2 separate regions of the Homo sapiens genome follow, and region 2 is linked to region 1. Evidence: fine-mapped expression QTL. Tissue or cell type: adrenal gland. Region 1 holds a variant in brackets; the other region holds the start of a gene. All regions are shown on one strand. Distances are from middle to middle.

Region 1 (7,886 bases):
TGTTTCTCCCAGGGGCTCCTCAGTCCCTCTGTAAGTGAGTTGATGCTGATAGGTATGAGGGCTCTACCACCTCCACCTGCTGACACTCCCCAAGCGCCAGCTGGGTTGGGGTGCACATGGATGGGGGTGAGTGGGCATCATCCATTCTTTTTCCTAGCAGCTCTGGTCCCAGCTGGTGTGGACTGTATGTGGAGAAAGTAAGGCAGAGAGGCCAGTGACTCATTTAGGGCCACCCTACTGGTCAATTCCCACCAAGGTAGTGGATGACAGAGGTGGAGTAAAGACTCTTTCCTCTGTGTCACCATGATGGTGGTTGGCAGGAGCCCACAGTCCCTCGGATCCTGTCACCATCTTCATTCCCACCAGGTCCTGGTGAGCTTTCACTTCCAACAGCAGCCCCTGCACCTCTTAGCTAGAGACACTCCTCATGATGTTGGAACCTGCTTTGCCTGTGTGTTTTCCTAGAGCCAATGGGGCAAGGGCAAGATGGACAGGAGAGTATAAATACCCCAGCTCCCCCCTCCCACTGGAGACTCTGAGAACCCCCTGTGGGGTGAGCCACAGTTACCTTCTGTTAAGGGTTGACTATGTCCTTCATCTCAAAATTCCTATATTGAAGTCCTAACTTCCTGTACCTTAACATGTGACCCTACTTGGGGATAGAGTCATTGCAGACATCATTAGAAAGATGAGGTCACACTGGAGTAGGGTGGATCCCTAATCCAATATGACCGGTGTCCTTATAAAAAGGGGAAATTTGGACACAGACACGCATACAGAGAGAACATCATGTGAAGATTGGATTACGCAGCCACAGCCTAGAAAATACCAGAAACTAGGAGAGATGCTGGGGACAGATCCTTCCCTAGCGCCTGCAGAGGGAGCAGGGCTCTGTAGACACATTAATCTCAGACTTCCAGGCTCCAGAACTGGGAGACAATGAATTTCTGATTTTTAAGCCACTCAGTTTTTGGTACTTTTTGATACACCTTTGAGGGCCTTTGTCTGCTGTCACACCCCTGTGTGGCCTCCCTGCCTCTCAGCCCATCTCTCCGACCCTCCCCAGAGCCCTGCCTAATCCCTAAGGTGCTCATGCACCCTCATGCAGGGTATGGTCTGCTTCTGGGGAATCCCACCTGACAGCGGGTTTTTTTTTTTTGTCGTTGTTGTTTGTTTTTGAAACAGAGTCTCGCTTTGTCGCCCAAGCTGGAGGGCAATGGCACAATCTCAGCTCACTGCAACCTCTGCCTCCCAAGTTCAAGTGATTCTGCTGCCTCAGCCTCCTCAGTAGCTGGGATTACAGGCATGTGCCACCACAACCAGCTAATTTTTATATTTTTAGTAGAGACAGGGTTTTACCATGTTGGCCAGGCTGGTCTCAAACTCCTGACCTCAGATAATCTGTGTGTCTTGGCCTCCCAAAGTGCTGGGATTACAGGCATGAGCCACCATGCCCAGGTTACAACAGTAGGTTTTCAGGAGCAATGGCAAACTCGCCAGTGGCAGAGAATGAAGTGAGCACACTGGTGTCTGGGGGTGGTGAGCTCGACTCTGCAACCCCATCTAAGGGGGGATAGCACCGCTCAGCTCCCACCACAGGGAATTCAGGCTCCATGTCACCTGAGCTTCCTTAAGAAAAAACAGAAGTACAGACTTCAAAAAAAAAGTGACATCTGATTTTTCTTTTCTTTTCTTTCCTTTCTTTTTAAGAGACAGGGTCTCACTCTATCACCCAGGCTGGAGAGCAGTGATGTGATCACAGCTCACTGCAGGCTTGAACTCCAGGGCTCAAGCGATCCCACCACAGCCTCCCAAGTAGCAGGGACTGCAGGCACAGGCCACCATGCCCCGCCTGGTTAGTATTTTTATTTTTTATAAATAGATATGAGGTCTCGCTTTGTTGCCCAGGCTGGTCTTGAACTGGCTTCAAGAGATCCTCCTGCCTTGGCCTCCCAAAGTGCTGGAATTACTGGCGTGAGCTACTACACTTGGCCCCAATTTTCCAATACTGGCCATTAACTCCATGAACGCTGCCTATTTTTTTTTTTAACTATGCAGGTCCAACCCAAACATGTCTGGAGCCCAGAGTTGACCCTTGGGCAGGCACTTTGCAACCTTGGGTTAAAGGTTTGGCAGGGACTGTGCACCCCAGTTTTGTGTGATGGGAAAAGCTATGAGCAGGGAGCAGGTGGAGACCTGATATCTACTCATGGGTCTACCACTGGTTTGCTGTATGCACCTGCTTCAAAACCTCTCTGAGCCTCAATCACCTGATCTGTAAAATGGGTATCATGCCATGCACTTTACCTCCTGGAGTGAAAATAAAGGTGGCTTGACATAATTTATTTAGCAAACACTTACTATGTGCATGCAATGTGCTGAGTATGTGATAAAACATTAACTCCTAGCCAGACCCAGGGGCTCATGCCTGTACTCCTAGCACTTTGGGAGGCTGAGGCAGGAGGATCACTTGAGTCTATTCCAGACCACCCTGGGCTGCATAGCAAGACCTTGTCTCTATGAGAAATAAAAAATTAGCTGGGTGTGGGGTGTGCACCTGTAGTCCCAGCTACTAGGGAGGCTAAGGCAGGAGGATTGCCTGAGCCCAGGAATTGGAGGCTGTAGAGACCTATGATTGCAGCACTGCACTCCAGCCTGGGTGACAGTGAGACCCCCATCTAAAAGAAAAAAGAAAAAAAACAAATTAGCTCCTGCATTCTATCCAACAGCCCTGTAGGGAAAAGAAAGAGAGATCAGACTGTTACTGTGTCTATGTAGAAAGGAAAGACATAAGAGACTCCATTTTGAAAAAGACCTGTACTTTAAACAATTGCTTTGCTGAGATGTTGTTAATTTGTAGCTTTGCCCCAGCCACTTTGCCCCAGCCACTTTGACCCAACCTGGAGCTCACAAAAACATGTGTTGTATGAAATCAAGGTTTAAGGGATCTAGGGCTGTGCAGGACCTGCCTTGTTAACAAAACGTTTACAAGCAGTATACTTGGTAAAAGTTGTTGCCATTCTCTAGTCTCAATAAACCAGGGGCACAATGCACTATGGAAAGCCACAGGGACCTCTGCCCTTGAAAGCTGGGTATTGTCCAAGGTTTCTCCCCATGTGATAGTCTGAAATACGGTCTCGTGGGATGAGAAAGACCTGACTGTCCCCCAGCCCGACACCCGTAAAGGGTCTGTGCTGAGGTGGACTAGTAAGAGAGGAAAGCCTCTAGCAGCTGAGATAGAGGAAGGCCACTGTCTCCTGCCTGCCCCTGGGAACCGAATGTCTCGGTATAAAACCTGATTGTACATTTGTTCATTTCTGAGATGAGAGAAATACCGCCCTATGGTGGGAGGCGAGACATGTTTGCAGCAATGCTGCCTTGTTATTCTTTACTCCACTGAGATGTTTGGGTGGAGAGAAACATAAATCTGGCTTACGTGCACGTCCAGTCATAGTACCTTCCCTTGAACTTCATTATGACATAGATTCTATTGCTCACATGTTTATTGCTGA[T/C]CTTCTCCTTATTATCACCCTGCCCTCCTACTGCATTCCTTTTTGCTGAAATAATGAAGATAATAATCGATAAAAACTGAGGGAACTCAGAGACCGGTGCCGGTGCCCGGTGCAGGTCCTTGGTATGCTGAGCGCGGGTCCCCTGGGCCCACTGTTATTTCTCTATACTTTGTCTCTGTGTCTTATTTCTTTTCTCAGTCTCTTGTCCCATCCGACTAGAAATACCCACAGGTGTGGAGGGGCAGGCCACCCCTTCACGGCCCTTAAAACAGGTCATGATTCTCATTTCACACTGAAGGAAACTGAGGTTCAGAGAGGTTTAGTAACTTGTCCAAGCTATTTATTTCCCGGCTGATAAGAGGCAGAGCTGAGCTTCAAAGCACGCTGACTGCAAAGTGTCTGAGTCCACAAACTGCTGTTTTGGTTTTTGTTGTTGTTGCTTTGGATACACAGGAAGGAGAGAGATGGGCAGTGACTCCCCGGCTTGCCTTGTGGGTCTCTGGACAAGCCGTCTGGGGAGGAACTGAGCCTGCGTGGGCGACGCTGGCACAGGGCAAAGCTTCCTGACCCAGTCTGGACAGGGGCCAGGGCTGGGCTAAACAACCTACCACTCTTTCTCCTCAGTGGAGCATTTCCCGTAAGTGGTGGCAGCCTGCCTGCTGGCTCGCAGACCTGCTAGGGCAGGCAGCCAGCCATTGCTTGGGCTCCTCCTGCAAGAGGCCCCCAGGGCTCCCAAATCGGGTCCTGGGTAATCTAAGTCCCGCTGCCCGCCCCAACCCAACCTCCCTGCGGCGGAGGGCCAGGCATGCTGCAGCGGCTACTCTGGGCTCCCCGCCTCATAGCTTAAATGCGTCCTCCATGTTGACATGCAGGGCAGGGCGTTTTGGGAGGGATGGGGACAGGTGGGCCTGTGCTGAAAGGTGGCGTGTGTGTGTGTGTGTGTGTGTGTGTGTGTGTGTGTGTGTGTGAAAGAGAGAACTAGATTGAGACCAGACCCCTCGGGAGGCAATAATCCAGGTCTCTGTGTCCCCTGAATTGTAAGGTCCTCATCAGGGGACTCTGCAGAGATTCGCTGCCAGGCGTGTGTTCTGAGTCGCTCATCCCTTTGTTCACCCACTCTCTGGCTGGCTTGTGGAATGCCAGCTGTGTACCTGGCCCCATGCTCTATGAACTTAAGAGACGCCTGCCCTTATGGAGACAGTACCCTAGTGGAGGCATGGGGAGGGGAATCTTACTAAACCAATAAGAAAACAAGAGAATTAGAGATCGTAGAAAGTGCTAGAAAGGGAACAAACATGTCAGGCCACAGTCTAGATCCCAGACCCTCAAGAGGGACTGAGAAACTGGGTGGGACATGAGCTGGGCTTCAGGGAAGGCCCCTTGCGGGGAGACCTCATATTTTCAGCCCTGAGAAAATCAGGAGGAGAAGGGCTTTCCTGGCCAGGGAGTCAGCAGGAGCGAAGGCCCTGAGCCAGGAAGAGGCTTGGAAGTTTCTGAAAATCTTGGAGTCTGGCCATTGTGGTCAGAGCATGATGAGTGGTGCAGGGAGAAGTGGGAAAGATCCGCAGTTCCTGACCAAGCAGGGCCCGGCTAGGTCACTTTCTCTAGTAGGGACAAGCTTCAGACCCCCCGGCTGCTAAGGGAGCGACCAGTGTCATGACCTCCCCAGCCCTGCCTCCATGGGAGGGGCCTGCCGACCTCTGGCTGCTCCAACAGGAGGCAGAGGTCCAGGGCCCATCCTGTCCACTGGGGTCACAGCCACTGTCCCCCATCCCGGCTGGCCGCAGAGAAGGCCCTGTTGACCTGACATTTCTGTCTCTTGTCCAGGCCCTTGAGTGACAAGAGGCCTTCTTTGGCCTGTTTGCTGACTTCTCCACGTCCCTGGTGACAGGGTGTGTTGCTGGGGAGGCCAGGCGGGCCACATCAAAACTTGGCTGTCCCTTTTGTTCCCTGGTCTGGAATTTCCCCTCTCTGTGCTTCTGGCATCCTGTCTCTACAAAAAATAAAATTAGCAGGCCGGGTGCGATGGCTTATGCCTGTAATCCCAACATTTTGGGAGCCCGAGACAGGAGGATCACTTGAGGTCAGGAGTTCCAGACCAGCCTGGCTAATGTGGCGAAACCCCATCTCTATTAAAAATACAAAAGTTAGCTGGGCGTGGTGGCGGGCGCCTGTAATCCCAGCTACTCAGGAGGCTGAGGCAGGAAATTGCTTGAACTCAGGAGGCGGATGTTGCAGTGAGCTGAGATGGTGCCATTGCACTCCAGCCTGGGTGACAGAGCAAGACTCTGTCTCAAAATAGATAAATAAATAAATAAAATAAAATAAGCTAGGCAGAGTGGGCATGTGCCTATGGTCCCAACTATACAGGAGGCTGAGGTGGGAGGATCACTTGAGCCCAGGATTTTGAGACCAGCCTGGGCAACATAGTGAGACCCCAACTCAAAAAAAAAAAAAAGGTAAAATTTATTTGCTTTGTCCCCCAGGCTGGAGTGCAGTGGTGTGATCTTGGCTCACTGACGCCTTCACCTCCTGGGTTCAAGCGACTGTCCTGCCTCAGCCTCCAGAGTAGCTGGGATTACAGGTGTGCACCACCACACCTGGCTAATTTTTGTATTTTTTAGTAGAGACGGGGTTTCACCATGTTGGCTAGGCTGGTCTCGAACTCCTGATCTCAAGTGATCTGCCCACCTCGGCCTCCCAAAGTGCTGGGATTACAGGCATGAGCCACAGTGCCTGGACGTTTATTTTAATTTTGACAGGCTTTCGCTATCATCCAGACTGAAGTGCAGTGGTGCAATCACGGCTCATTGTAGCCTTGACCTCCTGGGCTCAAATAATCCTCCCTCCTCAGCTCTTCAGTAGCTGAGACTACAGGCGCACACCACCATGCCGGGCTAATTTTTGTATTTCTTATAGAAACAGGGTTTTGCTATGTTGTCCAGGCTTGTCTCTAACTCCCCAGCTCAAGTGATCCTCCCACCTCAGCCTCGTGAATAGCTGGGACTACAGGCATGCACCACCACGCCAGGCTAATTTTTTTTTTTAATTATTATTTTTGTGTAGAGACAGAGTCTCATTATGTTGCCCAGGCTGTTAATTATAATAATACATTCTCTTTAATCCACTATGTCTAAAAGATTATCATTACAGCATGTAAACAATTAAAACATGATTTCAATATTATTATTTTACATTCTTTTATTCCTACCAAGTCTTTTTTCTTTTCTTTTTTTTTTTTTTGAGACAGAGTCTCACTCTGTTGCCCATGCTGGAGTACAATGGCACGATCTCGGCTCACTGGAACCTCTGCCTCCTGGGTTCAAGCAATTCTCCTGTCTCAGCTTCCCAAGTAGGTGGAACTACACGTGCCCGCCACCACACCTGGCTAATTTTTGTATTTTTAGTAGAGATGGGGTTTCATCATATTGGTCAGGCTGGTATCGAACTCCTGACCTCAGGTGATCCACCTGCCTCGGCCTCCTAAAGTGCTGGGATTACAGGCGTGAGCCACCACGCCCGGCCTTTTATTCCTAACAAGTCTTCAATCTCTGCTGTGTACTTTGCCCTGATAGCCCATCTCCATCCAGCCTTACCCCATTTCAAGGGCTCAGTAATGACTTGTGGTTCCTGGATTAGACAGCACAGCTTTGCATGGGGGCATTTAGTGCACTTTTGACAAGCTCTAGTTTGTTGTTTTTTCACTTGGCTGTATTTATTTGTCTGTAACTAGAAAGTTGGCCTAAAGAGGGTCAGCAATCAGCAGCTTATATCTCTTGCTAAGAGCTGCGTCCATGTCCACACCAGCGTGCTGGGCACAGCTGGTGTCAGGATTTGCACCCAGGTCTGTCTGGGTAGAAATCCAGGGCTATTTCCATGTACCACTCCCTGCGCCTGACAAGGTGGATGGGGCCCTGAAGGCAGCCCACGGGAGGGGACCCTCCTTCTTCCCTTGGCCCTCTGCTCCGCCCTCCTGGGTAACCTGCACTGGCTGCCAGCCTGAAGAAGGACTGGACTAGGTCACCTGAAAGGAGCCTCTGTGAAACAGGCAGCAGTGTGACAGTCACAGGGGCAGCCATACAAACAGGAGGGTGGGAGCCCCCCAACCTCGTGGGCCTGGATGTCCCCTGGCCTGGAGTCATACCGTAACTGAGTAGCTTGGCTTCAAAATGCTTTTTTTTTTTGCTCTGTTCCCCAGGCTGGAGTGCAGTGGCACAATCTCGGCTCACTGCAACCTCCGCCTCCCGGGTTCAAGTGATTCTCCTACCTCAGCCTCCCAAGTAACCGGAATTACAGGCACCCACCACCACGCCCAGCTAATTTTTGTATTTTTAGCAGAGATGGGGTTTCATCATGTTGGCCATGCTGGTCTCA
Region 2 (6,443 bases), 85 kb after region 1:
GCCTGGGTGACAGAGTGAGATCCTGTCTCAAACAAACAAAAAACATTTCAAAAATGTGAACATTCTTAGTTCAAAGGCCATAAGGCAGGAGATGGGCTGGATTTGGCCCACTGGCTATAGTTTGCAGGTCCCTGGCTTAGAGAAAAGCTAAAAGGGGTTAATAAAGAGGAAAAAGAAGCGTGAACGTAATGTAATAAACTATCCACATGCAAGGACAGATGTACATCTGCTAGCCATTTTCTTGGCTAGGGAATCCAGTGAAATGCTTCATTTGACTACTGGGCATTTCTTTGCTCTCTGCCGGATTGAGATTCCAAAGAGGCCAATTCAACTTAGTATAAGGAATCATTTTTTTTTCTTCTTGGACAGTCTCATTCTGCCACCCAGGCTGGAGTACACTGGTACAATCTTGACTCACTGCAACCTCTGCCTCCTGGGCTCAAGCGATTCTCATGGCTCATCCTCGCGAAAAGCTGGGATTACAAGCCTGCGCTACCACGCCCAGCTAATATTTTGTATTTTTAGTAGAGACAAGGTTTTGCCATGTTGGCCAGGCTGATCTCAAACTCCTGGCCTCAAGTGATCTGCCCGCCTTGGCCTCCCAAAGTGCTGGGATTACAGGCATGAACCACTGCGCCTGGCCTAGGAATCAGTTATTTAGTAGCCATCACGACCCTCAGACAAAATGAGCATCTCCCAGTGGTTCCTGAGGTCTCACCTGTGTGTTTTCATCCTCTGCTAGGCCATGGGCAAGGTGGGCGCTGAATGTGCTTTTCCCAACACCGCCTTTCCCAGACAATACCAAGATTTTGTGTTTTACAGTCTTCATTTTCTCTTTGATTTCCTCTATAGCTGCAAAGAAAACCAAAGTTCAGGGGATGAGGTCCCACACCAAACCTCGAATGTCACGCTTCCAGTCAACTAGAAAGAGCTAAGTCCTAGTCCTAGTACTAGTCCTGGGGCTGTTTAAAACGATCCTCTGAAATACCTCTCAGACAATGGTAGAAATAAGTGCTAGGAAGAAAATAAGGCTATTATCACACTTGAAGGGGTCTCATTTATTGGTTTACACGTTTGTCTCCCCCAACTAGAACATAGTCTCCACAAAGGTAGGAACTGTCTGAAGCTTTCAGTGCTGTATTCCCAGCTCCAGAAGAGAACTTTGCAAACAGCAATGGTCACCAACTTGGGGACAAAATCCCCCAGAGACATTTGGTAATGTCTGGAGACACTGTTCTTTCTTTCTTTTTTTTTTGAGACAGAGTGTTGCTCTGTCGCCCAGGATGGAGTGCAGTGGCGTGATCTCGGCTCACTGCAACACTGCCTCCTGGGTTCAAGCGATTCTCCTGCCTTAGCCTCCCAAGTAGCTGGGATTACAGGTGCCTGCCACCATGCCTGGCTAATTTTTGTATTTTTAATAGAGACGGTGTTTCTCTATGTTGGCCAGGCTAGTCTCGAACTTCCAACCTCAAGTGATCCACCCACCTTGGCCTCCCAAAGTGTTGGAATTACAGGTGTGAGCCACCATGCTCAGCCTGGAGACACTTTTCATTGTCACAGGAGAGGTACTGCTGGCATTTAATGGGTACAGCCCAGATTGTGCTAAATGTCCTACAATGCACAGGACAGCCCCCCACAACAAAGAGTGATCCTGCCCCAAATGTCAGCAGTGCTGAGGTTGAGAAACTCTGATAGACAGCAGGCACATACTAAGTATCTGCCAATGAAACTATCTTATTTCAAATCCTTAAAACAATACACGAGGTATAAAGGAAATTAAAAAGTCTCATGACTGGCCAAACTCAAGTGAAAGTTAAGCCTGGAAACCTCCCAACACTGCTGTCCTCCTCCCCATCAACAGACAGCTGTTACTTCCCAACCTTGTGTCAAAGCATTCTACATTAACCAGACACCTGCAAAAGGCCAAAGGCCCCATGCAATCCATTGTGGGATGACTGCCCTCACAAGTTGCTCCTAAGGAACTCCTTTGCTGGCCCCTAAATCTTTGAAGATGAGTATCCTCCCATAAACAAGGACATGCCAACTGTAACTTTAGGACTGTAACCTCAGTCTAACTCCTTCCCTATTACTGATGTCTGTTAAACGCCACACTGACCATGTCCATTACAAGCTTATCCTCCCACATGCCAAACAAAGATGGGATGAGATAGTCCTTCCTCTCCTACCCTGAGACGTCTGCCTAATTAATTCTTCCTTTATTCCCTCTTTTGAATGTTTACTTTATTTTCTGAATAGTGTAGATATACTGGGCACGAATTAAAACCTCACAAGAATGTAACTACCTGCCACGAGGCCTACTGCACTTTTTCCTGCATGCTTTTTCCCCTTTTAATGAAATATATAAACACCAGCCTTCTGGAACCACTCCATCGAGCACAGGCCACAGATGTTTCTGTCACTTGTATTTTCCAGGGCACGCCCTCAAGCTCTGGCCCAATAAACCTCCACTGAGGCTCAGTTCAGTCTCTCCATTGCATTGACAGAGATAACTATTTTTCTCTTCATTTTTTTTTTTCTTTGAGACAGGGTCTCACTCTGTCACCCAGGCTGGAGTGCAGTGGCACGATCTCAGCTCACTGCAACCTCCACCTCCCGGGTTCAAGTGATCCTCCCACCTCAGCCTCGAGGGCGGGCATGCACCACCATGCTGGCTAATTTTTGTATTTTTAGTAGAGACAGGTTTCACCATGTTGGCCAGGCTGGTCTCGAACTCCTGACCTCAAGTGATCCATCCACCCGCCTCGGCCTCCCAAAGTGCTGGGATTACAGGCGTGAGCCACTGCACCCGGCCTGTCTCCATTTTTGATGAGGAACCAGAAGCTCAGAGAGGTTAGGACTATTGCTGAAGGTCACACCGCATGGATCCAAGAATCAAATCCAAGTCTCTCTCTGAACTCCTTCAAGATTCTCCCCCTTGGCCAGGTGCAGTGGCTCATGCCTGTAATCCCAGCACTTTGGGAGGCCCAGGCAGATGCATCACTTGAGGTCAGGAGTTCGAGACCAACCTGGTCAACATGGTGAAACTCTGGTTCTACTAAAAATATAAAAATTAGCCAGCCGTGGTGGCAGGCGCCTGTAGTCCCAGGTACTCGGGAGACTGAGGCACGAGAATCGCTTGAACCTGAGAGGTGAAAGTTGCAGTGAGCCGAGATCACACCACTGCACTCTGGTCTGGGCTACACAGCAAGACTCTGTCTAAAAAAAAAGGGGGAAAAAAAAGAAAAAAAAATATTGTCCTCCTGCCTCCTGCTTTTTAAGGTCCTTCTGAGCAGGCTCCCTGGGTCCTCTCATCCTGGAATCTGTGCTTCACAGCACTTAAAGCTGCGGTGGTTTAGTTGCTAGCTCACGTGTTTGTTTCCCCAGTAAAGCTAAACTCCACTAGAGCAGTGACCACGCCTGATCCCCAGCTGTGTCCCCAGGACAGCACCAAACCTACGAGGCGATCAACACATTTCTGCTGAATGAGTGGGAGAATCACTCCTCAAAAGGAAGAAAATTGTGTCAAGAAAGTAGCTGGCAGAGCCAGGATGTAAGTCCGAAGACTCCCCGACTTCGAAGCTTATCCCGTTTTTCTCTGCGGTCTGTTATTGTCACTCAAACCTCTGGCCCCGACCCTCTTAATTAATGTCCCTTTCGACTCCGCGCCGGTCAGTCTCCACCCTCCATCCGCGCCAGGTCCTTCGCGCTCGCCTTCTAAAGGCCTCGTTCCTGTCAGTCATTCCAAGCTCCGCCCTCACCCTGCCCACTTTCCACGCCCCGCCCCTTCTGGGCCCCACCCCTCTCCGAATACAATACCTTCTAGCCTGCCGCTGTCAGTCATTCTGCAGATCCCGCCCCCTCCCTCCCACGCCCCGCCTTTTCCGGGCCTGCGCCTCTAAGTTCCTGTTGAGGCCTTGCCCTTTTCTCACCCGTGTCCGGAGTGGCCCCCGCTCCAGAAGCGCACAGCCGCTGGTTGGGGCATCCCTGACATGAAGCCCCTCTGCCCGCCTGGGCGCTGTCGGCCCCTGGACAGTCTGCGCAGAGACAAGACCACAGTTAGAGCAGCTCCCGACACTTTCGCCCCGCGACCCACGCCCCCTCCGCGAGCTTACCGTGAGGCACCTCCTCCATTCCGTCGCCTTTGCCGCCTTCGTGGTCACCGGAACCCGCTGTCGTACATTTCCGCCTTGTGGGCACAATCTGATTCTCCGACCGCGCGAAATAAGTCTCGGAAAGGGGGCTGTGCGCACGCGCGAACCTTGGGCCGAAAGACTGGGACTCAACGTCTGTTCCTTTTCAGAGATTTCCTATCATAAATACTTCTGCAGTGCATCTCCTAAGAACAAAGCCATTCTTCATGACATCAGTGCCATTTTCATACCCAAGAGATTTAATATCGATGCAGTACTAGCCAATGCAGTATTAGCCAATAGACAGTTTATATTTCAATTTCAGTTGTTAGACCCCCTCCCCTGCTGGATTCACTCACTGCCTGGAGTTATTTCTCTTCGGTCTCCTTTAATTCAGATCAGTCCTTCTTTTTTTAGGGGGGGTCTCATCACCTTGATAATTTTGACGGGTCCAGACCAGTTGTGTAATAGAATATCCCATATTCTTGATTTGTCTAATCCTCCCCTCCCTCTTGCCTTGTAATTAGATAAAGGTTAATTTTTCTTTTTTCCTGCAGAACACACTTGGATAATGTCAGTTTGTCCCGTTTTTGGTAATGTGAAGCTTGATCGCTTGCTAAAGGTGGTGTCTGCCCCATTTCTCCATTTAATGTTTCCTTCTTCCATTTGTAATTAACAGGTACTCTCTGGGACCATCTTCTTCTCTATCAGCCTTTCACTCAGTGATTTTAGCAGCATTTATATATATATATATAAAACTATAGATTATATATATGATAAATATATATCAGTTTTATACCCTCTCTTTTTTTCTTTTTTTTCGAAGACTCACTATGGATTCCTGGATTTTTTAAAATTGTCTTTTATAATCAATTATTATTCTTTCTGGTCGATTTTTTTTCCCCCAGATGTGGCCAGTGAAGCCCCTTCAAGACAGTTCTTATGTTCTTTGGGCACTAATCCAGCTTCTTTGAGCATTTTCTTGCTTTCTGATACAAGATGTTTCAGTCATCCCTTCTCCCTGCTGCAGTCATTTCTTCAGGGAGCCTTGGTTACTTTTTAGCAGACAACAGTTCAGAAACCAAGATGTGGATGCCACAAATGCTCATTGCTACTGGAGTGTCATTGCTCACAGGTTTGGCACCTGGAATATTAATGAGTGAACAAACTTTACCTAGCCCCAGACACTAAGAATATGGAAACGTTTATTTATTTATTTATTTTTGAGGCGGATTCTCGCTCTGTCACCCAGGCTGGAGTGCAGTGGTGGGATCTCGGCTCACTGCAAGCTCCGCCTTCTGGGTTCACGTCATTCTCCTGCCTCAGCCACCCGAGTAGCTGAGACTACAGGCCACCACGCCCGGCTAATTTTTTGTATTTTTAGTAGAGACAGGGTTTCACCATGTTAGCCAGAATGGTCTCGATCTCCTGACCTCGTGATCTGCCCGCCTTGGCCTCCCAAAGTGTTGGGATTACAGGCATGAGCCACCGCACCCGGCCTCGGAAACATTTATTAAACAGCAGTGTATCAGCTGCCTGTCACTACCACTAATTATAGCCAGCATTTTGTAGAATACTTACCGTTTGGCAGCTGTCATCTTTGTGCTTTCATGTGAATTACCTAATTTATGTCCTTTCATAGTCCTACTGTCTCCATTTTTGGATAAGGAAACTGAGGCTTAAAGTAAACTACTTTCCCGAGGTCGCATGACTGGTAGCAGGGGAACCAGGGTGATAAACTTGGTCTGTCTGGCTGCAGAGCCTGCACTTAGTAACACATGGTCCCAGCCAGCACTGGGCTAGATGCCAATGATTCCAGACTAACCTGGACCCTGCCATCTGGAGCACAGTCTGGTCGGGAGAAGAGGACCAGAGTGATGGGGCATCAGCAAAGGCCTGGAGAGCAGAGAGGAAGTCACCTATCAGGTAGGGACTGTTGTCATTTCCGTTTTACAGGTGATAAGATGGCTGCAAAGATTTACTTGTCCACAGTCTGAGAGGCAGAAAGAGCAGAACTGGGTTTTTAACCAAGTCTGATACAGGGCCTTTGCTATTAATCACTATACTGTATATTAGAGGGCAGGATGCAAGTTATTCTCCTTTTTATTTTTATTTTTGTGGGATGGAATCTCACTCTGTTGCTCATGCTGGAGTGCAGTGGTGTGATCTTGGCTTACTGCAACCTCCACCTCCCGGGTTCAAGCAATTCTCCTGTGTCAGCCTCCTGAGTAGCTGGGACTACAGGTGCCCACCACCACGCCTGGCTAATTTTTTGTATTTTTGGTAGAGACGGGGTTTTACCATGTAGGCCTG

The links. PIP is the estimated chance that this variant, and not a neighbour inherited with it, causes the effect.
Region 2: NUBP1 starts here. The variant in region 1 is fine-mapped to the expression of NUBP1 in adrenal gland (GTEx, PIP above 0.99).

What each region holds. Positions count from the first base shown.
Region 1 is chr16:10,825,332-10,833,217 of GRCh38, reverse strand. No RefSeq gene overlaps it. Among named protein-coding and RNA genes, the nearest start is that of TVP23A, 10 kb to the right of the region's middle. RefSeq lists a silencer at 4,203-4,272. The variant T/C (reference allele first, on the strand shown) is at 3,513.
Region 2 is chr16:10,741,552-10,747,994 of GRCh38, reverse strand. NUBP1 (NUBP iron-sulfur cluster assembly factor 1, cytosolic) reads right to left here and starts at 4,153. Exons shown (of 11, transcript NM_002484.4): 1 at 4,113-4,153; 2 at 3,930-4,034; 3 at 719-852. The coding sequence starts at 4,131. RefSeq lists an enhancer at 4,295-4,344.